Regions from separate parts of the Homo sapiens genome. Here regions 2 and 3 are each linked to region 1. Evidence: fine-mapped expression QTL. A gene starts in region 1. Each other region holds a variant in brackets. All regions are shown on one strand. Distances are between the middles of the regions.

Region 1 (8,184 bases):
ACCCTTTATCATTCTTGTCGCAGAACCTTTAAAGTTCTGCAGTTTGTCAAATGGCCTTCTCAGAATCAAGCTCAGAACTAAACACTAATGTAGAGCCTATCAAACTATTTTGCTTCTTGTTTTGGACACTATGTTTCTATGCCTAAACTGTCCTTTCTTTTTTAGCAGCTACATTATATTGTTGATCATTAAGGAATTCACAATCAACTATTCCTTAGTCTTTTTCACATGGATTCCAATGAAGGAATTCCAGTGAAGGAGGAGAGAAGGAAGTATAACTACTAACATCACCCTGCTATTCTATTCTCTTAATAACCAACTAATTTTGAGTGCTAACTACATGCCAGACAATTGCAATTCTATACCTACCTACACTTGACTTTTGCTGAGGTCTGAATGTGTTCCCCTCAAATTCATATTTTGTTTATGTATTAATTTTTCTGAGACGAGTCTTGCCCTGTTGACCAGGGCAGAGTGCAGTGGTGCCATCACAGCTCACTCCAGCTTCGACCTCCTGAGCTCAAGCAATCCTCCCACCCCAGCCTCCCAACGTGCTGGGATTACTTGAGCCACTGCGCCAGGCCTCAAATTCACATTTTGAAATCTTAACCCTCAAAATGATGGAATAAGAAGGTGCAGCCTTTGGAAGGTGATTAGGTTATGAGGGTGGAACCCATGTGAATAGGATTACTGCCCGTATAAAACAGACCTCAGAGGGATTCCCTAACCCCTTCTTCCATCTTATGTTATAGTGAAGAGACCACTGTGTAGGAAGCAGGCCCTCACCCGACACCGATTCTGCCTGAGCCTTCATCTTGGACTTCCCAGCCTCCAGAACTGTGAGAAATAAATTTCTGTGTTTATGAACTACCCAGTTTATGGTATTTTGTTATAGCAGCTCCAGTGGACTAAGACAACCTTCCAAATCTGACTAAAGAACTCATTGCAACAAAACTTATAAAAGGTTGAACAGAAACTGTACAAAGTAGCTCCCAGGCATTATTCAATTAATAAATATAAAATCTTGCACAACAGCCTCTTGAGGGTAGACTGTCACTACTAATCATTTATCCATACTTATGTGGTAAGTATGCCTTGATTCTCAGCCCTATGGCTTTTTCTTCTCAGAGAATCACACTGGCAAGTGGTAAAGTGAGATGTCCAGGGTACCATTCTAAGCAAGCATCTTCACTCATCTGCAAGCTTTAATTGAAAGTCACAAATCTCAACTGAGAAAGCCATCTAGTCACATACACACATTTTAAAGCTGCCGAGCACCACCTTCCAGAAACCAAAGTGTCAGATCTGAGTTTCCCAATAGCTCTTCCTGGGCTGGAGTCATCTATTACACAAAACGAACTCATTATTTCCTTACATATGGGCACCGTCAATCTATTTTCCGACCTTTCATCCTCAACATCCCCATATCCCTTTGAAGTCAAAGCATCAGTCATTTTTGTCAGGTGTAAAACACATACACCGCACGTGCACGGGGATGCTCTGATGTTCACAATGTGTAAAAACTTGAACGTTTAGAGATCGCTTAAATCCCTGGTGTTGCATAAAGGGCCTTGATAAAAAACATAAATATTTGCAAGGTTGCCTTTCCATATTTGTCGCTTTGGGGACGGAGGGTTCCTAAGTCAGAAATGGAATGCTAGCAACACTCTATCACCTCACACAACCCCTATGCCGGGGCCAAGGGAGGCGGCTGGCAGGCCTGGAGCGCGGGCAGGCGCCTGCTCCCGGAGGAGAGACAGCGCGGGCTGGCGCTCCGCGACCCCTCACCTCTCTTGTCCAGGAGCCACATGAACGCGAAGCAGGGCAGGAAGCCGATGGGCCCCCACAGCACGAGCAGCGCGATGTCCCAGCTGGAGAAGCCGTAGGCCTGGCGCGCCGAGTTCTGGATGGGACCCCAGGTGTTCCAGACCAGGCCCTGAACGAACGCCAGCAGCGAGAAGAGCAGCAGCACCAGCCAGCGGCGCCCGTATACCCGCCCGGGACCCGGGACCGCCGCGGGCAGCGCCGCCGCCGCCGCCTCCCGGCTTCTCCAGGAGGCCCCCAGCCCAGGCCCGAGCCCGGGCCCCAGCAGCGGCTGCCTCTCCTCTTCGCTGCTCCAGCGAGAGCCCATGGCGACGCGTCGCCCGCGAAGCCACTGCCGGGCGCAGTCCGGGTCACCGCCGACTAGCCCAGCGCAGAATAGTCCTGAGCAGCAGGAGGCGGAGGCTGCTGTGGTCGCCCTCGGCCTCCGGACCGCGCCTGGTGCGCCTGCGCGGCCCGAGCCGGGCCGGCGGGGAGGCGGGGAGGCGGGGCAGGCGGCAAGGAGGCTGGGGTCCGCCCTCCCCTCCGCGGGTGGCGAGGAAACACCGGCGAGAGGAAAGGAGCCAGGTCCCAGACGGAGGGCAGGTAGCGCTGAAAAGGCAGGGACCAGCGCGGCTGAGTCGGGGAGAGGGAAACTCCCAGAGAGGCTGTATTCGAGGAGGTTGGGCAAGGAACCCTGGGGTGTTTGGAGGAAGTGTCCAAGTTAAATCTTGTGCCTAATAAACAACTCAGTGACCTGTTAAGTGACGTCAGTTAACCTGATGCTTGCTTCTATTTTGGGCTTATTCTCATTTTTGTTGAGTTAGTAACTTCAGAAATTATAGGCGAAGGATAAAGTTTAAGCGTAGTTGGTCCCAGGGGATTATCTCATAAAAATCATTTCTTACGTGCAATAAGTACTACCTATTTTTGTTACTTTTTTGTCTTACATATCCAAAGAGGAGATTCCAAACTAGCCAATTTCATTCATATATATGTAAACTTTACCCATTTCGCCTGCCAATAGGCGAGCAATAAAGGTATGTCCAGTAAAGTTGGAAGATTTTTGCCCCAAAGATCCATCTCCAGTGATTATGATTTGACCACAGGGTAAACGAGAAGAAAGGTGGTTGTTGATCTCTTCACACAGCTGTTTGTTTATTTTGGTATACAAATTCAGAAGCCTGACAGCTGTGGATTAGTGTCCTTGAAAACCTAAAGTCAAGCAATTTGGCTTGTCTGGATCGGGAAATGAGTCACAGGGAACGCAATCACAGGATTCTTTGCCCGAGGTTCGTATTTCCCGGCAGCCACTAAAATCAGAAGGAGTCAGGTTACCACCAGAAGGGCAAGAGAGGTGTAAGAGAAGCGTGAGCTAGCCTCGCATTCCAGGCTGCCAAGAGCGGCTCGCGAAAGCTCACGGCAGAGACCCATCCCACCGCCGGAGCCCCACTAAGCGGCAAACCTTCCCCTAAAACTCCAATCCTTTAGGGTGGAGAAAAGCCGAGGTGGAAAGGAAGGATCTGACTAGAAAAGGAGAAACAGAAACGAAGCTAAGACTACAATAAAGAACGCTAAGGTCCGGGTTAGGTAAAAAGCGCCACAACTCAGACCACGTGTTTGTATTTCCACACCCGGGGTATCAAAACAAAGCTGCGTGGTCCCGCCCAGCATCCGTCACGTGACCTCCACGTGAGAGCCGGCGTTTCCGTAGGAGCCGGGCGGGAGTCGCCGGGGCTCCTTCCTGTGGTGCAGCTTCGGGTCTCGGAGTTTGGCCCCTACTCTGACCCCACCCCAGCTCCGCTCCGCCTTGGGTTCCGGCAGAACCCGCCTTGCGGTAGCCATGGCAGCAGGCTCCGAGGCGACCACTCCTGTGATCGTTGCGGCTGGGGCTGGAGGGGAGGAAGGTAGGTGCCAGGCTGAGGTCCGACCCTGAGTACAAACCCAATGCCAGTTGACTCTCGTGGCACCCCTCGTGGGGCCGTTTGCCTTAGCCCCAACCCAGGTCTCTCTGGCCTTGCATTAGACTATGAAGAAAAATCTATATTTTCTAGTGAGCGTGGCATTTCTCGAATTGTGGCATCCAGATTTTTGATCGTCGTAGGGTAGCCTACGAGTGCTGTTTCACGCATGGGGTGTTATTTTTGTTTTGTTTTGTTTTATATTTGCCCATCATTAGCTAAATAGAGGTGTTTTGAACGTTTAGAGGGGATTAAAATTAAATTTGTGAAATTGAAGGCAACCTTTGAGATTAATGGAAGTTATCTGAGACTTTTGTGAACAGGGATTATGCGCTTTTATTCTATTTCAGTGAACCCTGGTTTAGCAAGTGGGGATGAGGTTTGGAGGCCCATGAGCCTGAGATCCCTGTTATTATTTATTGAATGATTGCACCGTGCAGGGCTGTGTTCTGAATACTGTCGCAGGATCCAGAGACTTTTGAATATTTATAACAATACCTTTTCCAAAGGAGCCTAGAAAGGAAAAAGAATGACTTACTATGTGGTCACCTGAACTATTCTACCAGTAGTACACTCTGTGAGGGTTGTTAGGAGGAGGGATCTCAGTGGGGAGAACATAAATGCTTCAAGGAGCGAATAGTTTGAGGTCGGCCTTTCTTTTTCTTTTCTCTCTTTTTTTTTTTTTCTTTTTTTGAGACGGAGTCTCGCTCTGTCACCAGGCTGGAGTGCAGTGGCGCGATTTTGGCTCACTGCAACCTCCACCTCCCAGGTTCAAGCAATTCTTCTGCCTCAGCGTCCCAAGCAGCTGGGACTACAAGCGTGCCACCACGCCCAGCTAATTTTTGTATTTTTAGTAGAGACGGGGTTTCACCATGTTGGCCAGGATGGTCTCGCTCTCTTGACCTTGTGATCCGCTGAGGTGGGCCTTTCTGATTGGATGAGATGGTGACAAACTCAGGGAGTGGTGCTGGGGTTCAGGAAGTCAGGGAGCAGAAAAGGATGGATGTATTTAGGGGTCAAACAGTTTGCTGAAGGGGGAGATGCCCATTCCAAGCAGAAGAAACAAATTATAGCCTCCTACTATCTGACCACTTTCTACCAGGGAGACAATTCTTGACCTTCATCTATACCTCCATTGCATTGATCTTTCCATTTTCTATCCACTGCACCCCCTTATCCAGAATGTATGTCGTTCCTTTGAAAAATTCTCTTGTCCCTTCCTGCACTTTTTTCTGACAAAACTCTTACTCTGGATGAAGTCAACCTTTTGCCCTCTTTGTACCTGCACCCGTGGGCCTGAACTTTGCTGGAAAAAGTCCTGCACAAACTGATGACCGTATAAAGTGAAAATGGCCAAACTCTTGAATATTCAGTCAGTATGGGCTTGAGATCCCTCTGATCCTCTGTTTCTCTAGTGAGCCTGCTAACGTTCTCCAATGACAAATTCCCAAACTCTATAACCTCTCTCTGCCTCTTTCTTAATTTCAGGTAATGACTTTGCAAGTCAGGTCAATTCTGCATCTAATCTGTCTACTTTTTTCCTTTCACTATCAGACCGTACTTCAAATCATCCACATTTTCTCACCTCAACTACTACTGTATCTTCCTGACTGACTTGTGTCTCTGTTTTCTATTCTGTGCCCCTCTAATCCCTTCTCCACTCTGCAGCAAAAAGTGACTCTTCCTTATGTAAAATTCTTCAGCGAATTACATTGCCCTTAGAAGTTAGAATAAAACCCAGATTCTTAACCGTGGCCTGTAATAATCCTTGGTCTGGGCTCTGCTGATGTCTTTAGCAGGATCTCTTGTCACTCACCTCCCCTTTGGCTTTTCACATAGCTGGCTTAATCTTTAGCTTTTAAAGTATGTCACCACCTGAGACCTTACCAGATCAAACTATTTAAAACAGTCACTGTGATTTCTCTTGCACCCCCCAACCCTAGATGTTCTGGAATACAGCATCCTGCTTCTGTCATTTTACTTACTACAATCTGTAATTATTTATTATTTGTTTTTTCCATTAGATCATAAGTACCTTGAGGGCAGGACCTATGTCTGTTTCATTCTCTACCATGTGCCCAGCTGCTAGTACAATGCCAGGCACATAGTTGGCACATGCCACATGTTTGTTGAGTGGATGAATAAGGGCACTCCATGCCAAGTCCAGAGGCAAAAGGAGAAAGCATGGCATGGTCCAAGAACTGAAAGAAGTTGGTGTCAGGAGTGGTAAGAAAAGAGGTATCCTGAAGGTTACCTTAGGCCTAGTTAAGGAATCTAGACATTAAGACAGTAGGAAGCCTTAAAGAGCTTTAGGTGAGGGAAATAACATGATTAGATTTGGTTGTAGGAAGATCACTTTGGCTGAAGGGTAGAAGACCGATTGGAGGGAGAAAGACTGGAGGACAAGGTACTTAATCCCTTTGAGCCTCAGTTTCCTCCTCTGTAAAATGCATGATTATTGTGAAGATTAGAGTTAATATGTGTAGATTATCTAGCATAGTATCTGGCAGGAATTGGATATTCAAGAATCGTGACCATTTTTATTATTAATAGAAAGTGCCAGCCTTAGTAACTGATGTTGAAACTGAAAGAAAAGAAATTAGAGATGTTATGTAAGAGAATGAGAAAAATAAATACATTAAATAAAGTCAAGTGAAAGGGTCAGTATGTTCAGTACAATGATGAATACAATGGGAGTCATAGAAAAGTTCATTTTTAAAATTTTTGGTTTATTTTTTATTTTTGTAGATACAGGGTCTCACAATGTTCCGTAGGCTGGTCTCGAACTCCTGGCCTCAAGTGATGCTCCCACCTCAGCCTCCCAGAGCACTGGGATTTCAGGCATAAGCCACTGTGCCCAGCTGAAAAGTTCATTTTTGAGCAAACTTATTCCATTATCAAAAAATATTTGAATGGCACATGGTAAACAGACCTTTTTCATGTGGTAAAGCAAAAGACAATCTTTGCCCCAAAATAATTATAAATATCATTTTTGGCAATAAAGACATAGATAAAAAGAACAGTAGTATAAGACATATCCTAAAGGTCAGATGTAATTAGCTGGGATATGATACTCAATATGATACACATTAAGTACTTTGGAGGCTGAGAGGAGAAGGAACTAATAGAAATTGGGTTGGTTTGTGCTTCCTAGGATAATTTCTTGAAGATGAGCCAGGTGAGGATACCAATTCTACTAAAGTAGAAATAATGACAGAGAACCTGGGTGAAAAAGGGGAAGACTTGTATCCATTGAATCCAGAGAAGAGCAGGGTGAAAACAGAAATGCTGAAGTGACGAAGAGGGAAATCATGGGTTTCAGTCTTTGCAGAAAAATAGAGCAAGGTACCACAAAAGTAAGGAAGTAGAGAAAGGTACTGGAGATTTGAGAGTGAAGAAGCATCCAGGCATGCTGGTGCATGCCTGTAATCCCAGCACTTTGGGAGGCGAGGCAGGCAGATCGCTTGAGCTCAGGAATTTGAGACCAGCCTGGGCAACATAGTGAAACCCTGTCTCTACGGAAAATACGAAAATAAACTGGGCATGGTGGCACACGCTTGTAGTTCCAGCTGCTTGGGAGGCTGAGGCACAAGAATCGTTTGAACCTGTGAAGCGGAGGTTGTAGTGAGTTGAGATCGTGCTATGGCACTCCAGCCTGAGCAACAGGGCCAGACCCTGTCTCAAAAAAAAAAAAAAAAGAAGCTTTGGCATGATTGCCATAGGGTTGCGGGTGATTAGGAGTGATAGGAGTGAGTCAGTGCTTGGGAGCAGGAAAGGGTAACTGGTAGAGGTGAGCATAAAATCGTGGAACTAATCACCTTGGTTATGCTTGATAGCTCATTCTACAGAAGTGGAGAAAACAAGTGCTTAGTTTCAATAAAGTTTTATACATTGCTAAAAATCAGGTATTCTTATACAGTTATTTGAAAGAAACATTTGTTTAGCATCATTTTATGCTAGGCACTGGACTAACCTCTAGGGAGATAAAAGTAAGAGGTCTGCCTTCAAGAATGTGATATTGTTTGTTTGAAATAACAGCTTAGAAATAATTAAAAACAAACATGAAACTACTTATTGTTAATTAAGAATTAATTTAAATTCTGAATGTGAAATGTTACTCTCAGAATCATACATAGATTGAAGCATTCAGTGAAATTAAAAATTGCAGTTATTTGAGTGTGATTCTATCTTTCAAACTGAGGTTATTATATTTCTCTCTATTGGGCTGTTTTTTAGTTTTTAGTTATAGCCAAGATTATTCCTTGATAAAGAGGAGAATGTGTTAGTAACTCTTCTTCCAGTGCTTTCTGAGGAAATATCTCATCTAGAGTTGTATGGAATTGATTTTCACTTAGAACTAACATTCCTACATAACTGGATTTATCTTTTTCAGTTGGAGACCCGTACTCACCATGTCATTTTT
Region 2 (8,184 bases), 87 kb after region 1:
GACACAAACAAATGGAAACACATTCCATGCTCATGGATGGGAATTATCAATATTGTGAAAATGACCATTCTGCCCAAAGCAATCTACAGATTCAATGCAATTCTCATCCAAATACCAGCATCATTCTTCACAGAACTAGAAAAAAAATCCTAAAATTCACATGGAACCAAAAAAGAGCCCATATAGCCAAGCAAGACTAAGCAAAAAGAACAAATCTGGAGACATCACATTACCCAACTTCAAATTATACTACAAGGCTATAGTTACCAAAACAGCAAGGTACTGGTATAAAAATAGGCACATAGACCAATGAAACAGAATAGAGGGTCAAGAAATAAAGTCAAATACTTAAAACCAATTGATCTTCAGCAAAGCATACAAAAACATAAATTGGGGAAAGGATACCTATTCAATAAACGGTGCTGGGAAAACTGGCAAGCCACATGTAGAAGATTAAACTGGATCCCCATCTCTCACCTCATATAAAAATCAACTCAAAATGGAGCAAAGACTTACATTTAAGACCTGAAACCATAAAAATTCTAAAAGATAACATTGGAAAAACTCTTCTGGACATTGACTTAGGCAAAGAATTCATGACTAAGACCCCAAAAGCAAATGCAACAAAAACAAAAATTAAAAATGGGACCTAATTAAACTAAAAAGCTTCTGCACAGCAAAGTAATCAGGAGAGTAAGCAGACAATCCACAGAATGGGAGAAAATATTTGAAGACTATGCATCCGACAAAGGACCAGTATCTAGAATCTACAAGGAACTCAAGCAAATCGCAAGAAAAAACAAACAAACAAACAAAAAAAAAAACAAATAATCCCATCAAAAAGTCAGCAAAGGATCTGAGCAGACATTTCTCAAAAGAAGGTATACAAACAGCCAACAAACATAAGAAAAAATGCTCAACATCATTAATCATCAGGAAAATTCAAATTAAAACCACAATGAGATGCCTCCTTACTCCTGCAAGAATGGCCATAACTTAAGTCAAGAAACAATAGATGTTGGCATGGATGTGGTAAAAAGGGATCACTTTTACATTGCTAGTCGGAATGCAAATTATTACAACCACTACGGAAAACAGTGTGGAGATTCCTGAAAGAACTAAAAGTAAAACTACCATTCAATCCAGCAATCCCACTACTGGGTATCTACCCAAAGCAAAATAAGTCATTATATGAAAAAACATACACACACATGTTTATAGCAGCACAATTTAAGATATGGAACCAACCTAAGTGTCCATCAACCAACAAGTGGATAAAGAAAATGTGCTGTATATACACTATGGAATACTCTTCAGCCATAAAAAGGAATGAAATAATGTCTTTTGAAGCAACTTGGATGGAGCTGGAGGCTATTATTCTAAGTGAAGTAGCTTAGGAATGCAAAACCAAACATCCTATGTTCTCACTTATAAGTGAAAGCTAAGCTATGAGGATGCAAAATCATAAGAGTGATATAATGGAATTTGGGGACTCCAGGGGGAAGGTTGAGAGGGGGATGAGGGATAAAAGACTACATAACGGGTACAGTATATGCTGCTCAGGTGACGGATGCACTAAAATCTCAGAAATCACTACTAAAGAATTTATCCATGTAACCAAAAACCACCTGTACCCCCAAAACTATTGAAATAATCATAATAATAATATATTGCAAATGAAAATAAAGTTCAAACTTTAAAGAATTTAAAAATTTAAAAAAGAACCAAATAGACATTTTAGAACATACACATACGTATCTAAAATAAAACATTCACTGGATGGGCTCAATAGCATAGAGGACAGAGAAAAGACTCAGTGAACTTGAAGGCAGGTCAAGATAAATTATCCAATCTGAAGAACAAGAGAGAAAAAAGATGAGTGGGATTGAGGGGGGTAGGCATGGGGAGAACAGCTCTGCAGAGACCTTGGAACACTGTCAAAAGGCTTAGCACCACAGTATTGGAAAACAGAAGGAGATATGAAATAGATCAGTGCACAAAAAAGCATTTAAAGAGATAACTTAAAATTTTCCAAATTTGATGAAAGACATACATTTTTATATTCAAGAAGCCTCGGTGAAACTCAAACAGGATAAACTCAAATATGGCATCAACAAATTTGACAAAGGTGAAAGATTTGGTGAGTATTGTCTCTCAAATTTGTCTATTTTGGAAAATACATGTCACATTCTCCTCAGGAAATGGTAGTCTTGTCATTACTTAAAACCCATTATACAGATTACATAACTTGGCCTGCCTTCCCTTTTGCTTCAGATTATATAAACATGACCAGTGTCTTACATGCTCAGGTATATGAAACATAACTTAGTATCATTTGTCACTCATTGATTTTTTTTTCATAAAAATTATCACTACTGTCTTTTACCTGCCAATGAACAGTTACTTAGCAACTAGAAATCACTTCTCAATTTAGAAGCTTTACTGAACCTTGTGTATCTTTAGCCTTCGGAATTTTGTCACTGACGAGATTTCCATTAGCCCTTCTGGCAAATTCATCTGAAAATGCCTGAAATATAAACACAGCGTTGATCATTACACTCCTCAGTAAATGAATAAATTGGAATCATCAGGGTGTTTTGTCCTGCATGCACACATACATATTTGGGAGATAACCATTCTCAAACAGTATTATTTAATTTCATTGCAGATCTTGAAAGTTATAAAAACAACACATGATTCTGTTTCTATAAATGTGTCTAATGAAAATATCAACGATGTGGACAACGATGTGGATAAATACAAGGATATTCACTACAGTGCTATTCATAACAGAGAAAAAACAGTTAAAAATTCAACAGGGAAAAAGTTAAATAAATGTTGCTGTATCCATGTGTTGGAGTATTTATTAGCCATTAAAAATCGTATTTTCAAAGAATTTTTTAAATGAGGTCTTGCTGTGTTGCCCAGGCTGGGGTGTCGCCCAGGCTGGAATGCTAGAGGCGTGATCACAGTTCACTGCAGCCTCGACCTCCTGGGCTTAAGCAATTCTCCCACCTCAGCCTCCCAAGTAGCTGGGACTATAAGTATATGGCACCACACCCAGCTACGTTTTTTGTTTTTTGTGTTTTTTTGTTTGTTTGTTTTTTGTAGAAACAGGATCTCCCTATGTTGCTCAAGCTGGTCTTGAACTTCTGGCCTCAAGTGATCCTCCTGCCTTGGCCTCCCAAAGTGCAGGGATTAAAGGTGTGAGCCACTGTGCCCAGCCTCAAAGAAGATTTAGTGAAATAGAAAATAAAAGCGAAGGATATTAAATAAAATAATTTATAATCACAATCCTTTATTTATTTATTTATTTATTTATTTATTTATTTATTTGAGATGGAGTCTCATTCTGTCACCCAGGCTGGAGTGTAGTGGCACAATCTTGGTTCATTGCAAACTCCGCCTCCCAGGTTCAAGTGATTCTCCTGCTTCAGCCTACTTGGGAGGTAATTTTTGTATTTTTAGTAGAGACGGGGTTTCACCATGTTAGCCAGGCTGTTCTCCTGACCTCAGGTGATCTGCCTGCCTTGGCTGCCCAAGGTGCTGGGATTACAGGCATGAGCCACCGCTCCGAGCCAATCCCACTTTTAAAAGTACATATGTAAAAAAAAGCAGGCTGGAATAAAATCCAACTAAAGAATTTATGCATTTTGCATTGTTCAAAGTTTCTACAATGAACATGAATTACCATAATGGTCAGTCAAAGCAAATAACTTGCCAATTGTAAAAACTACAATGTTAAGAGAATGACCATCACAAGGTCCCAAACACTTCCGTTTTTAATTTCCTATTTGTACCAAAAGAGGAGGGGCTGAGGAGTCATGATTTTTGGAGCAAGTAGCTGGTGTATGTATTCTAGTGTTAATAAACCTGTGAATTTCATTTTTTTTTTTTTTGCCTGTTGGTGACCCTCCATAATCATCATTTTCTTCCTCCTTGTAAACAAGCAACAGATAATTTTGTTGGAAAAAAAACAAGTAACATCTTGGCTAAAGATAGATGCAATAATGGGAGAAGGAACCAGAGAGAGGGTAGAGCAAAGATCTCAGACTCACAGGCTTCTAGGAGCCAGGTAGGTAAGGCACATGTGTAAAGGTGGTCTGATTTGACTATGGAGAACTAGAGAACACCTGCCACTCAGCCATGGAAAACTTCCTGTCCCAAGCAGGAAGCCATGTTTAATGTGCCAGAAGTTTTGAAGTTTTAGGTTGTAGTGAATATCTAGAGTTTTATGTAAAATTTTTGATTTTTAAATGTTAGCAACTGATTGAAATTTTTTTTTAATAATCTAAATAAAGCACATCTAGAGGCCATGTTCAAATCACAGGACTGCTGCTTTGCA[T/A]CCTCTGTGACAGTCTCCATCTATAAACATCTCGATAAGCTTTGCTGATTTTTTTGTGCAAATGTAACCAAAGTTTAACTGTCTTTAAAAGTCTAAAGAGAAAAAGTGTAACAGACACATACAGAGAATTTCAAATGGTACTAAAGGCATCTGTATAGACTAATTCTTTTTACAGAGTATTTGAAAAATACTCAGTCTTCAGGAAAGAAAATGAATGCTGAGGTTGCATGAAAAAGAGTGATATTTGAAGGTTCAGGTCTGTGTCACAGGACTCATGCTGTATTCAATCACCCATGCATTCAAAAACAGCACTTCATGCCTCTCATTTAGTTCATTTTGTGTATATAAATCTTAGCTCCAAAGTAATTGTGATTTATAGGAGGGAAAGTATGTGCTATTCCTATTCGTCCTGTTCCACGATCCACATCACCTTGCACAATGCAAGTCATAGGGAAATTATTTTAAAAGCTTCTGTTGCACAGAAGAGTAACTAATTATACGGGACAAGTAAATGGACCACATATTTTACTCAGGTGGTTTGGCTGCCTGATCAGAATTCAGGTCAGATTTACTTGCTTCCAAAGAACTTATAGGTAGTATCTAGCATCACAGAAAAATGAAGCATTACCTAAAAATTCAGATGGTCCAATGATCCACAGGTATCTCTTGGGTTGCTGATCTTAATCTGTTTGATCAATTTTTGCAGTACCTTGGGAGCTTTTCAAACACTGAATGTCATCTACTTTATTTGATTAAGTAAAGACTCGGAGTGCAGGGATAATGGCTTAAAAGCCTGTTGTGCTGCCATAATGCTGAGTCCAGTGGCTCTCCCACAGCTGATGTGAGCTGAATCATGAACTCATGATTGATGATAGTTCTGGTGTTTCTGGTCCCAACTCTCCTATTTACATGGGAATGTGCTAATCCATTCTAACCACACCTTCTGACATCTTCCTATTGATAAGGCCAGACTGTGCTTTTATACTATGTATTAAAATTTCTATGTCCATATGGAGGGAAATCCTATAGTCAACTCCATTGCAATATGTGGGCCTTATTTGGATTCTGATTCAAACACAAAGCTGTAAAAACAAAACGTTTATGAGATAGTCAGAAATTTGAGAATTGATTTGATAATTGGTTAAAGGAATTATTGTCCATTTATTTTAGGTGTGATACAATATTGTGGTTATGTTACTTTTTTAAAAAGAATTGTTATTGTTTAAAATAAATGTTGAATTGTTTATGGATAAAATGATATGTCTGAGATTTGCTTCAAAAGAATATAGAAGGAAGGGAAATAGATGAAGATAGAGATGAAACATATTGGCCATAGGTTGATAACTGTTGAAGTTCAGTGATAGGTACAAGGGACTGCATTATACTATTATGTCTACTTTTGGATATGTTCAAAATTTTCCTGAATAGGAAGTTAAATTTTTTCTACATCTGTAACTTTTCTTAAAATTTGTCATGCTACAACTACAACTACAAGTATAAACTACCTTCTTACTTTCCTGAATGGGGAAATGAATGAAAAAAGTATCCTGTTAGACCAAAAAGACATTTGAAAAAACACTAGGTCTCAGTTGCCAAAATAATCAGAAATTAGTGGCACTGTACCTGAATATTTTCATGATCACTCGGGTGCAGCAGAAAGTGAACCTCTTGTAAAGTTTTCAGCTGATTCTTGCTACTAAATTTGAACACCTCTGAAATGATTAATTCAGCGAATATGTTTTTAGGAAATCCCAAGTTTCCTGTTCCTATTGCTGGAAATGCAATTGATTTTAAGGACAAGCTCTCAGTGATCTCCATACATTCTCTGATTATGTCTTCCATTATCTGAAACGCACAAAGCACATCCTTATACATCTTGTCTAGAAATGGGAGTTAGAACAAAAAGGACAAGAATTTAGCAACTTTGTGAACTTGAATACTCCTTTTTGCTGTCAACACTGATTAAGGGCAATCAGAAGAGGAAAGAAAAATACAGGAGAAGGCAAGGAAAAGGAAAAGAGAATGCGAGAGACTTAAACACATTCACAATGAAGGAAAGAAGCAAAGCAACTACTGTTCTTTTCCTTCATTCTCTTCCATTCTTCACACCCTCCTCTGGCTTTCTTCACTAAGCAAGCAATAATATTATCTTCAGTAACCCTTCCCTGAGCTCCAATAATTATTGAGCACAATAATCCATTTATAGTATTAACTAGTCCTCAGGAGAAGTCAGCTACAGCTGAAAGAAATGGCCACATGATGGAATCTGCCAAAAGAGTGATTATTATGGAAGAGAAACAGACAAGGCCCAATCTATGTCCAATTAATATGCTACTAAAAGGAGAACCCAAAGGGCTACCCAACTTCATGGAGAATTCAAAACCAGGCCCAACCTTGAGTGAAGATGTGCTACCATTTCTCCACTCCGGAGCTACCACGTGAAGCACATAGCGACAGTCCAGATTCCAGCTGCTGGTTTTGAGCACTGTGCCCATGCTGACAGCCACCCCTTGTCCAACTGTGTCCAATTCCTCCTGGAGCTCTGGTCCAGCTTTTTCCAAGAGGGACTTAGAAAGAGGCCCTCTACTAAGCACGAGATCCAAGGGAACGGAGTTGACAACAACATCGGTCTTAAAGACAAAACCAAAAATTTGTTTCAAATTTTAACAAAAAGCATTCATCAATGATTACTATATTTGAGGCACTGGGCTTGGCACAATTGGAGACAACTAAGATGACTACGGTTTCAGTGATTGAAATATCAACATAAGACAAAGTGTGACTAAATACTTATTGAAGTGACACTTAGGAAAAAAAGAGAGCAGTCAAAAAGTAATCTATGAATGGTATGGCATCACTGAAGGAGTCCAGAGAAAGCTGTTTCAGTAACTAGTGAAGATACCATGGGCAATGTGGGGTTTGAGAAATGGGAAGAATTTCAGCAGGCAGAGCAAGACAGGGAGCAGCATGAACATAGGCATGGTGGGTTGTGAGCTGTGAACAGATTAATTTGATCTGAGAGAGCTTCTGCAGCAAAATGGTATGCTCCAGGCTAGAAATGTTACACTGGGGGTAAACTAGGGGGCCCACCTCGAGTGCCAAGACATCTGGACTCCCTGACAGAAAGGGAGCAGCCCCGGAAGCTTTTTCATCAGTGAATGTGAGCAGATTAATCGGGCTAGATTAGAGAGGTCAAGAGAACAGAGGAGAGGGAATGTAACCAAGTGATTTTCAAAGCTGCCCTGCCTGGGTCACTAAGGAGTAATGCAGAGCAGTTATTACAGCCATGGAAGCTAAGCATCTATGGGAGTGAAAGGAAAGCAAACTATGACTGTTTTTTGTTTTTTGTTTTTTTTTTTTGTTTTTTTTTTTTTTTTTAAGAGAGAGGGTCTTGCTCTGTCCACCCAGGCTGGAGGGCAGTGGCATGATCATAGTTCACTGCAGCCTCAAACTCCTAGGGTTCAAGTGATCCTCCCACCTCAGCATTCCGAGTAGTAAGGACTACAGGTATGAGCCACCATGCCTAGCTGGGAAAGAATGTCTTGATATTTGGTGTCAAAAGAGACAAGGAATGAAATTCATTCCCATAACTGATGCTTGGTCCAAAGAGTTTTTATTTAATTTTTTAAAATGAGACACAACATTATTTTTAACATTTTGAAAGAGTGCAATGGTTAAGAGCCTGAACAAATTCCAATCCTGGCTCTACCATTTGCTAGTTGGGGGATGTGGGCAAATTACCTAACCCCTTTAAGTCTCACTCCCTCATCTGTAAAGTGAGAATAATAATAATCCTAGAATCTGCCGCATGGCAGTGAATGAGAACATGCATGTCAAAA
Region 3 (8,184 bases), 96 kb before region 1:
CCCAAAGTGTTGCGATTACAGGCATGTGCCTGGCCCTGTGTATTATTTTATGATGGAAAAATTATTTTTAAAAATCAGGGTAAGAATTCTGTTTCCTATATGGCATTAAGATAGGTACACTGTGTGTTCACCCAACCAGCATTCATTGAATAGACGCTGAAGACTCAAGAGGGAAGGGAGGGAAGAAGGCCAGGAACACGTATGAGGCAATCAAAATGTGCCAGGAGCTTTGTGCTCCTCACTCTATTCCAACACCATAAAATCCAGGCAAAGGTAAATGTAATTATCTCCCTCCCTGATTTTATGTTTTTTAAATGAATGAGGACAGGGGATTTCCAAAAGAGACAACGGAATCCCCGTCTCCGGGCTTGCTGCGGAGGAGAAGGATTTGGCCCAGCCGCCTCTGCTTCCTTACTCGTATTTTTTTTCTCACCACATCTTGCTGCCCGAACGCTCAGGAAGCTTTGGCTCCACTTCTACTGCCATTTGGAGTTTGATTAAAAACAAAATGCGGACCACGTTATCACAAGTGCTTTCAATACATGTTTATTGCAAAACCACAAGCACAGTAACCATAATGTCAACATAACCGTATTTCCTAACGGAACAGGAGATCGCCATGCCTAAGTGCGTGCGTTTTCCAAAGAAATGGCGGCTTATTTGGAAGCTCACACGCTGCAAGTGATGACGAGAAGCCCTGTTGTGAACTAGGAGTTCTAAACCATTAAACATTTAATTACCACTTTGGCAAAGCAATGCACATTACCATTTCTACAATGGAACAGCACAGAGATTTTAAATGCATCTTTATTTTTTAGAATCTTCAGTATTCACAATGTGTAAAATGAAGCAGCATTTTAAGTAAAGCTCTATGCCAAAACAGTTTCTTAAAAAGTCTGGATTAAAAAGAAGGAAAACCACACATGAATAATATTTATCAGTGCTCACAGTTGACACTAACTATAGTTTTTTAAAAGAATAAAAATACTCAAGACTTCAACATTTCCTTACAAAAGTATACTTGGCCATAAAATAAAAATCTATAAAACCCCAAATATTACAAAAGTAAAATGCAAAAAAATTTTGTATACAAATGTAATACAATCTTTACATGGTAAGGATTATTTAAAAACACACAGAACACTTCCTAAGTGTGGATGTGCTTGGGAGCTGAACTCATCACACACCTCTGCTCTGACCATTGCACAGACCTAGCAGGTGGCAGAGCGGGTGCACGGCCCCTGGCATCAAGTCTCAGTGTTGGCAGGTTTTAAGCTCCCCCCGTACCCATTCATACTTGCATCATCTCTTGTGCTGGAGAAGCTTGCTCAGGCATATGGGGTGTCACAGGAGCTGCGGCACCTGCCTTCCAGGAGCCTGTATATAACCTATATCCTCGTGTTACTGCTTTAAAATCAGGCCCTGGAGCTGGGAGGACTCTCAAGAGACGACCCTGTCCTCTGGGCCAGTCCTGACCCACTCTGGCAGTGAGTCTACCGCAGCCTGCTGGAGCACTATTTCACCCTGGCAGTCAGAGGGTTCCACTGCAGCCATTTCTGCCAAAAACCTCTCCCAGGATGGGCCCAGATCCCGAACAGAAAAGGACTTTGTTCTTTCACTTCTTGATGCCCTCTTCAAAGGAGTCAGAGGCATCAAGTGTCACCTGGGACTGGAAAGAAGGGAAAGGGGAGGGGATGAGTTGGAATGAGACTCAAGGCCCAAGGCTGATGGGAAGGGATGGGGGTCTGTTGGGCATGCTAGGACCCACCAGCGTGGAGAGTGCTGCAGGCTCCCTCACCAGCAGAGGCCTCTACTCTGGGTTTCTGCCATAATTCTATCTCCACTGCTGGCCTTCCTGCTCTGACTGTAATGTGGTGCAGAGCCATGAAAGCCAGACAACTAATGGCATAAAATGAGGCCAAATACACCTTGGCTCGATAACAGACAGGGAGAACAATAAAGTGCTTGGGCTTTGGAGAGTGATTTTGGTTGGACAGGCTTTCTGGCTTGCTTCTAGGTATGTGACTGAGAGAATGGAGGCAGACGGAAAAGTCTGGATGGAATAGGAGATAGTAGCTTTACTTGGATCGAAATCCCCTTAGACTACCAGAGATTTCTCTGCATCCAAGAATTGGTATGAAAAGTAATTACTCTGGCAGAATGCATGAAACACAATAAAGTAGGAATAGAAGCATGCCTTCAATCAGAGAACATTTCTTTAGAGGGGTGACTGTGAAAGTTAAAGACTTTTGAAGAAAACACAGCTCTTCCCAGGCTGCAGTGGATGTCTAGATTCACACTGCGTTCTCAGAGCACAGGAACCTCCACTATGCCAGACGGGGCATCTGTAAGGCCAGCTTCCCCAGATGGCTGGTTCTACCTTCTAGAGTTTCCACAAGGCTTGGAGTCAGCTGCTCACATTTAAGAGAAGGAAGGAAGTGTGAGATGTGAGGCTGCTTCCCCACCTCCACCTCCACAACTCTTCATGCTGGGGTCCTTTGCCCTGACTTGTTCTGCCTGTTTCCCCTGTCACTCTGTTTCTTGACCCCTCCCTCCCTCACACCCTCATTCTTTGAAAGCAAGAACTTCTAGTGCAAAGGGGAGTGGCTCTGGAACTGATGACAGAGGGAGGTTGTAGAATCTCTATCCCTCGAGAGCTGAAAAGGCAGCTAGCCAGACCCTCTGCAGGCAGGATGTGCTTGGAGGCGGGAGGCTGGGCCAGATGACTTCGTGAGAATGAGCCAGCTTCAGAGTTCTGCTTTTCAGAACCTGCTTCCACCACAACTCCATGCCTCCAAGCCTCCTCCTGTACTTTGGCTTGGCACACATATTAACAAATACGTCTACAGGTCTGGCTTCTATTTCAATACTCTTCCACTGCGGTCTCACAGATCTCCTTACATGGTTCCTGTCTCTCCCTTGGTAGGAGGCTCTTTTGGCCTAATCCCATGCCTTAATGAATGAATGCTGGCAGATCTGAAATCTTTGAAAGCTTGTTAGCTTTCCCTAAAAACCTTTTCACTTATTTTCAAGCCATCAAAACAGATTTCTCTGCCTTTCCCTTCAAAGGCTGTCCAGCGGCATTTTTTTAATTCTAAGAAGGTCACACATAACTATATATTGATTAGGGACAGCATGGATTTTTAATGGCCCAAGGAAACAGGATTTAGAACATATTTTCCCAAGAAAGTAAGATCCCGTACAGGAATCAAGACAGCTGTACAGATGAGCTACAAAGCTTCCAACAGCCCTTTTGGGGGTGTTGCTGGCTTTGAGTTAGGTTTTATGAATGGACTCACTGGAATGCAAATCTGAGGGCCAGGAGGCTGATTTGTTTGCTTCTGCACCCTCAGTGCCTAGCCCAGTGGCCAGCATGAAGTGGGAGCCCAAAACATGCTGGTGAATTATTAAATTATTAGCTACAGATTCCTCAATCCTGGTTCTTTTTTAAAAAAATCTTAATACGATCTGCTTTTATGATAAAATCCATGCCTGACTTTAGAGTGTTCATTATGTTCAGATTGTATAACAAAGTAGAAAAGATCATAGTCTGCTTTAAGATGAGAGAAACAGTTTTCCTAAGAAAAATTAAAGCTTTTAAAAAAAACATGAATGAAACTTCAGGACCTAGATAACCAAGAATTTACTGGTAAAGGAATACTGACAAAAGAGTGAAAAGGTAAGGGAATCAGCAGATGGTTCAATAGAGTAACCTTTTCCCAATTAGATGGAAGGACAATTACAGGCAACAGAATATAGCACGGAGCTTCTGTGCCTAGGTGGTCTATATTAAACTTGAGTAAAAAAAGAACAAATACAGGGACTTCTCTATTCTGAGATAGAAAAGGGTCAAACATTAGGACTAAGGTATCAATTGATTTCTTTTTCCTGAAAAGGTCAAGTGCAATTGACAAAAGAGGAGGAGGGAGGCCCAAGGTAGGGATTCTTTGGGACATGGGGCAAGGATCCTGGAGCCAAAACCCAAGGGACAGCGGAGGTATGGAGGAGAGGGATGGCTTTACTGGGGATACCTGTATTACTTACTACAATGATTTCTCAGCAATAACTCATTGATCAGGAAGAGTGAGTGCAATGCGAATTAGTGAATTCAGGGAAGGACTAAGAACCACCACCTTCAACACACACACTGAACTCTACTGAGCAGGCCCTATTCTTCCTATGGCAGGTAAGATGGGATCGACTCCCTCTCATGACTTCTTCCAGGCACTTTCTGAGTCACAGACCTAAACAGAAACAGGTAGTTATGTGTGTAGGCCAAGGAAGTGATTTTGTTTGGGACTTGTGGATGCAGTGTATTAGGATGGAGGCGGGATTTTCTTAATGCTTAATTTTCACAAGCCTCCAAAATGACATATTTCTGGTGGGGAGGGAAGTAAATTCGGAACTCGGGGCATTTGTAGTAAATGAAATAATTGGCAGGAACTAAAACCTGCCCTTTTTAGCATTCTTTGGGTTTCTGCAAAGGCTCAGGGGGCTGGGACTTCACTAGCAATACATCAAGTGTGATTAGGTTTACTCACACGTATAAACTGAAGGGTTTCTGCAGTCTCCAGCCCCCAAAGTAGCCCTGCTCTATGTGGCTACCTGATATCCCAAATTCTACCATTAGAAAGCCCCCTTTTGGTATTTAGCCTTTGTTCTTGTTAGTATTCAAATTCCCCTTAGAAAGGAGACCCACAAAGCCTTATGAGTATAAGCATCTTAGCATGTATGCATTTGTTAAATTTTGTCTTAAGAGAAGGCTGGGGTACCAACAACATTCCCAATTTCCCATAGGAGTAATAACCAATTCCTCAGCCATGGAATGATGGTAGGGTTGGGATTCCTCATGCAAAAATTAATTCTGTGCCTCCAGACAGATCCAGATCTTACTCATGAAAAGAATATCAGTGGGACAGAATGTCTTTTCCTCAAAATCAGTTATGGTTTATGATTTGAGAACAATATATGGGCTCCTGTTATGCATAATTATTTGGGAAATTGTCACTAGCTCTTTGTAATTGTTAGTTCAGGAGTGTGTTTTTT[A/T]AAAAAAAACCTTCTGACTGGGCATGGTGGCTCATGCCTGGAATCCCGGTACTTTGGGAAGCCGGCAGGAGGATCGCTTGAGGCCAGGAGTTCGAGAATGGCCTGGCCAACATGGCAAAACCCCATCTCTACTAAAAATACAAAAATTAGCTGGGTATGGTGGCGCATGTCTGTAGTCCCAGCTACTCGGGAGGATGAGGCACGAGAATCCCTTGAACCCGGGAGGCGGAGGTTGCAGTGAGCCAAGATCACACCACTGCACTCCAGCCTGGGAAACAGAGCAAGACTCTGTCTCAAAACTATCTCAAAAAAAAAAAAAAAACTTCATTTTTCTGATTATCTTTCACTGCCATGTAATTGTACATATATAAATTACTCTGCATACAGAATGAATAGTATACATGGATGAAGGAACGAATAGATATAACAGTCTGAAAGTTTCCCTAATGCTGGCACCTGTAACACATCACTAACAGGGCCTTGTAGAAGTTCCTTATTGGTTTGAGAAGATAATGTATAAACTGGGAGTACTGGTGGAAAAGTATTGCACTCATGTTTTCTACTTTTTGGTTGTGTGTGACCAAGGGGTATAGATCAGAGAACTGTAAAACTTTTCAGCAAAAAGAAACATCTTCTCTGACCCTCCTATTTCAGAAGTGAGGAAGCCAAAGTTCAAAGAGAACAGATGACTTGCCCAAAGCCCCATGTCTTCAGCCATGCAGAAGACAGACGCCCAGACTTCCTGACACTGAGGTTGGTCTTCTGGTTCACTTCTCTCTCTCAGAGCTATTAATATTATGCTCACATTATAGTCACGAGGAAGTCTTGTTGGCCGGACATGGGGGCTCACGCCTTTAATCCCAACTCTTTGGGAAGCTGAGGTGGGAGGATTGCTTAAGTCCAGGAGTTCAAGACCAGCTTGGGGGAACATAGTGAGACCCCTTCTCCATAAAAAATAAAAAATTAGCCAGGGGTGGTGGCATGCGCTTGTAGTCTTAGCTACGCAGGAGGCTGAGGCAGGAAGATCACTTGAGCCCAGTAGTCTGAGGATACAGTGAGCTATGATCATGCCACTGCACTCCAGCCTGGATGACAGAGACTGTCTCAAAACAAACAAACAAACAAAAAAACCCTTGTTTACTAACACTTGAGTACAGATCATTCCTTGACATGCTGAAACTTAGCTCTTATTCTGTAAAATATCTGCACAGTTTACTGGAAGAATCTGACCATGTGGAGATGGCATCATTGCAAAGCAACTTACAATTCTTTGATGCCTTAACTAAAGATGTAAGTTCAAGGATTGGCTTTACTACCTGACCTAACAGTTTTGATTTCTACAAGTGCAAACCCATGCTGCCTCATGATGAATCCAATCAAACCAAAGGACTCGTATCTCGTTTGATCTGATTCTGGTGAGCAAATGCAGTACCCCGACCTGGCTCCCAGTATGCTATCTCAACATCAGATGACAGATTTTTCTCTTATTGCATTTGATACATTTAATAAACCCTGTGTTTCATATATAAAGTCCTTTGGGAAAATAAACAGCACCTGCAGCTTATCTCCTCCCACAGACACTGAAAAAGCAATTTCTTCTTATTGAATGTGGATGCAGCATAAGATTTCATATGTTCACGTACAGGGCTCACATGAGGGGGGCTACCGCACAAATGGAAACACCAAGGTGCTGGGCACCTCTCCAGCTTTACAGACTGCACATGCTTTGGTCATGTTCATATTTAAATAAGAATCAACTGGTATTTCTGAATTAGAAGAAATCTAAGGGAACATTTTTGCTCACTCCCTCATTTTAGAGATGTTGCTAAAGGAGAAATGAAGTGACTTGCTCAAGGTCAAATAGCTGAAGTCACCAGGCCAGGGTTAAGAGCCAGACCCGTGGGCTCCTACACCAGTGCTCTTTTTCTCTGTCCTCTCTAGTAGGGTCCATGAAGAATCTGCATGCCCGGCTCTCTCCTCTCCACCGCTGGCAACTCGTAAAATCTGGGTGTCACACAGCTCGCTCCCAAGCATTGTCAGAAATAAGAAGACACCATCAGAAAGGGGAAAGCTGGATGGGCAAGAAGACAGGAAAGGAAAAAGTGACCAAATGAAGCTGAGCTTCTGGCCTGCTACAGTTCATCATTTCTACTGACAGCTTGAAAATTAGGAAAGACACAGAAGTTGACCAGGAAACAATAAGAATTATCAGAATCTCCATTAGCTATTTTTTCAAAAAACGAAATTGCACAAGCCAGGCTGGGCAACATGGTGAAACCCCATCTCTACGAAAAATATAAAAAATTAGCTGGCATGGTGGTATACACCTGTAGTCCCAGCTACTTGGGGGGCTGAGGCTGGAGGCTTGCTTGAGCCTGGAAGATTGAGGCTGCAGTGGGCTGAGATCACACCAGGGCACTCAAGCCTGAATGACAAAGTGAGACCCTGTCTAAAAAAAAAAAAAAAAATTGCACAAGATTATTCTTTTGGCTTCTGTTTTCTATAATATTGTGTGCCTCTGCAGAGACAGGGAAGCCAAGAAAGTCCTGTGGAGGAAATCTATATGGATTTCATAGGTCGGTTACTCACTTTCTTTTCTCACAGTACAGGGAGCTTAGTTGATGGTGTTAAGAACAGAAATTGTATTTCCAGTAAGAAAACACAATAGTGCATATTGGAACTCAACTCAATAATGCATATTGGAACTCACTTTTGAACTTTAGAATATGATAAAGCTTGATGGTACATAAGCAGGTCTGTGAAACACCTACATTAACCACAATATGCTACATCTGACAGATTCATCTGGGAGAGAAATAAGGATCTCAGAAACTTCTGCTTCTGCCCATAAAGTTTATACCAATATGGTCCAAGAAAGAGATCCCTAGGTGACTCGATTTTAAATGCCCCCCGAGTTTTTATACATAGATATGTAAATGCATACACAAGTTTCTTCTGAAAGAATGAATGATGATACCCTCTGGAGAGAATGGATTAAACAGCATGTTTGTATGGAGGTAGACTTTACTTTCTATTCCTGTACTATTTTATAATAGTTATACACTCATGTATTTCTCATGTAATTTTCAAAACTCTAAAAGAAATGAAAAAAATTACTTAAAAGAATTACTTATGGCT

Alleles and levels. Positions count from the first base shown, and alleles are read on the strand shown. Sizes are in standard deviations (SD) of each study's normalised expression. Not every link is listed here.
In carriers of allele A in region 3, the expression in prefrontal cortex of the gene that starts at base 3,493 in region 1 tends to be lower than with T alone (moderate effect, 0.74 SD a copy in CommonMind).

Evidence for each region.
Region 2: its variant is fine-mapped to the expression of HSPBAP1 in whole blood (GTEx, PIP above 0.99).
Region 3: its variant is fine-mapped to the expression of HSPBAP1 in prefrontal cortex (CommonMind, PIP 0.93).

The regions. Positions count from the first base shown.
Region 1 is chr3:122,789,140-122,797,323 of GRCh38, reverse strand. HSPBAP1 (HSPB1 associated protein 1) reads left to right here and starts at 3,493. Exons shown (of 8, transcript NM_024610.6): 1 at 3,493-3,707. The coding sequence starts at 3,644. SLC49A4 (solute carrier family 49 member 4) reads right to left here and starts at 2,255. Exons shown (of 9, transcript NM_032839.3): 1 at 1,789-2,255. The coding sequence starts at 2,131. RefSeq lists a silencer at 1,929-2,418.
Region 2 is chr3:122,702,533-122,710,716 of GRCh38, reverse strand. PARP14 (poly(ADP-ribose) polymerase family member 14) reads right to left here. Exons shown (of 17, transcript NM_017554.3): 7 at 6,739-6,975; 8 at 5,969-6,190; 9 at 2,449-2,527. Among named protein-coding and RNA genes, the nearest start is that of PARP14, 26 kb to the right of the region's middle. The variant T/A (reference allele first, on the strand shown) is at 4,346.
Region 3 is chr3:122,884,763-122,892,946 of GRCh38, reverse strand. LINC02035 (long intergenic non-protein coding RNA 2035) reads right to left here and starts at 6,434. Exons shown (of 1, transcript NR_024618.1): 1 at 531-6,434. RefSeq lists an enhancer at 2,438-2,527. The variant A/T (reference allele first, on the strand shown) is at 5,047.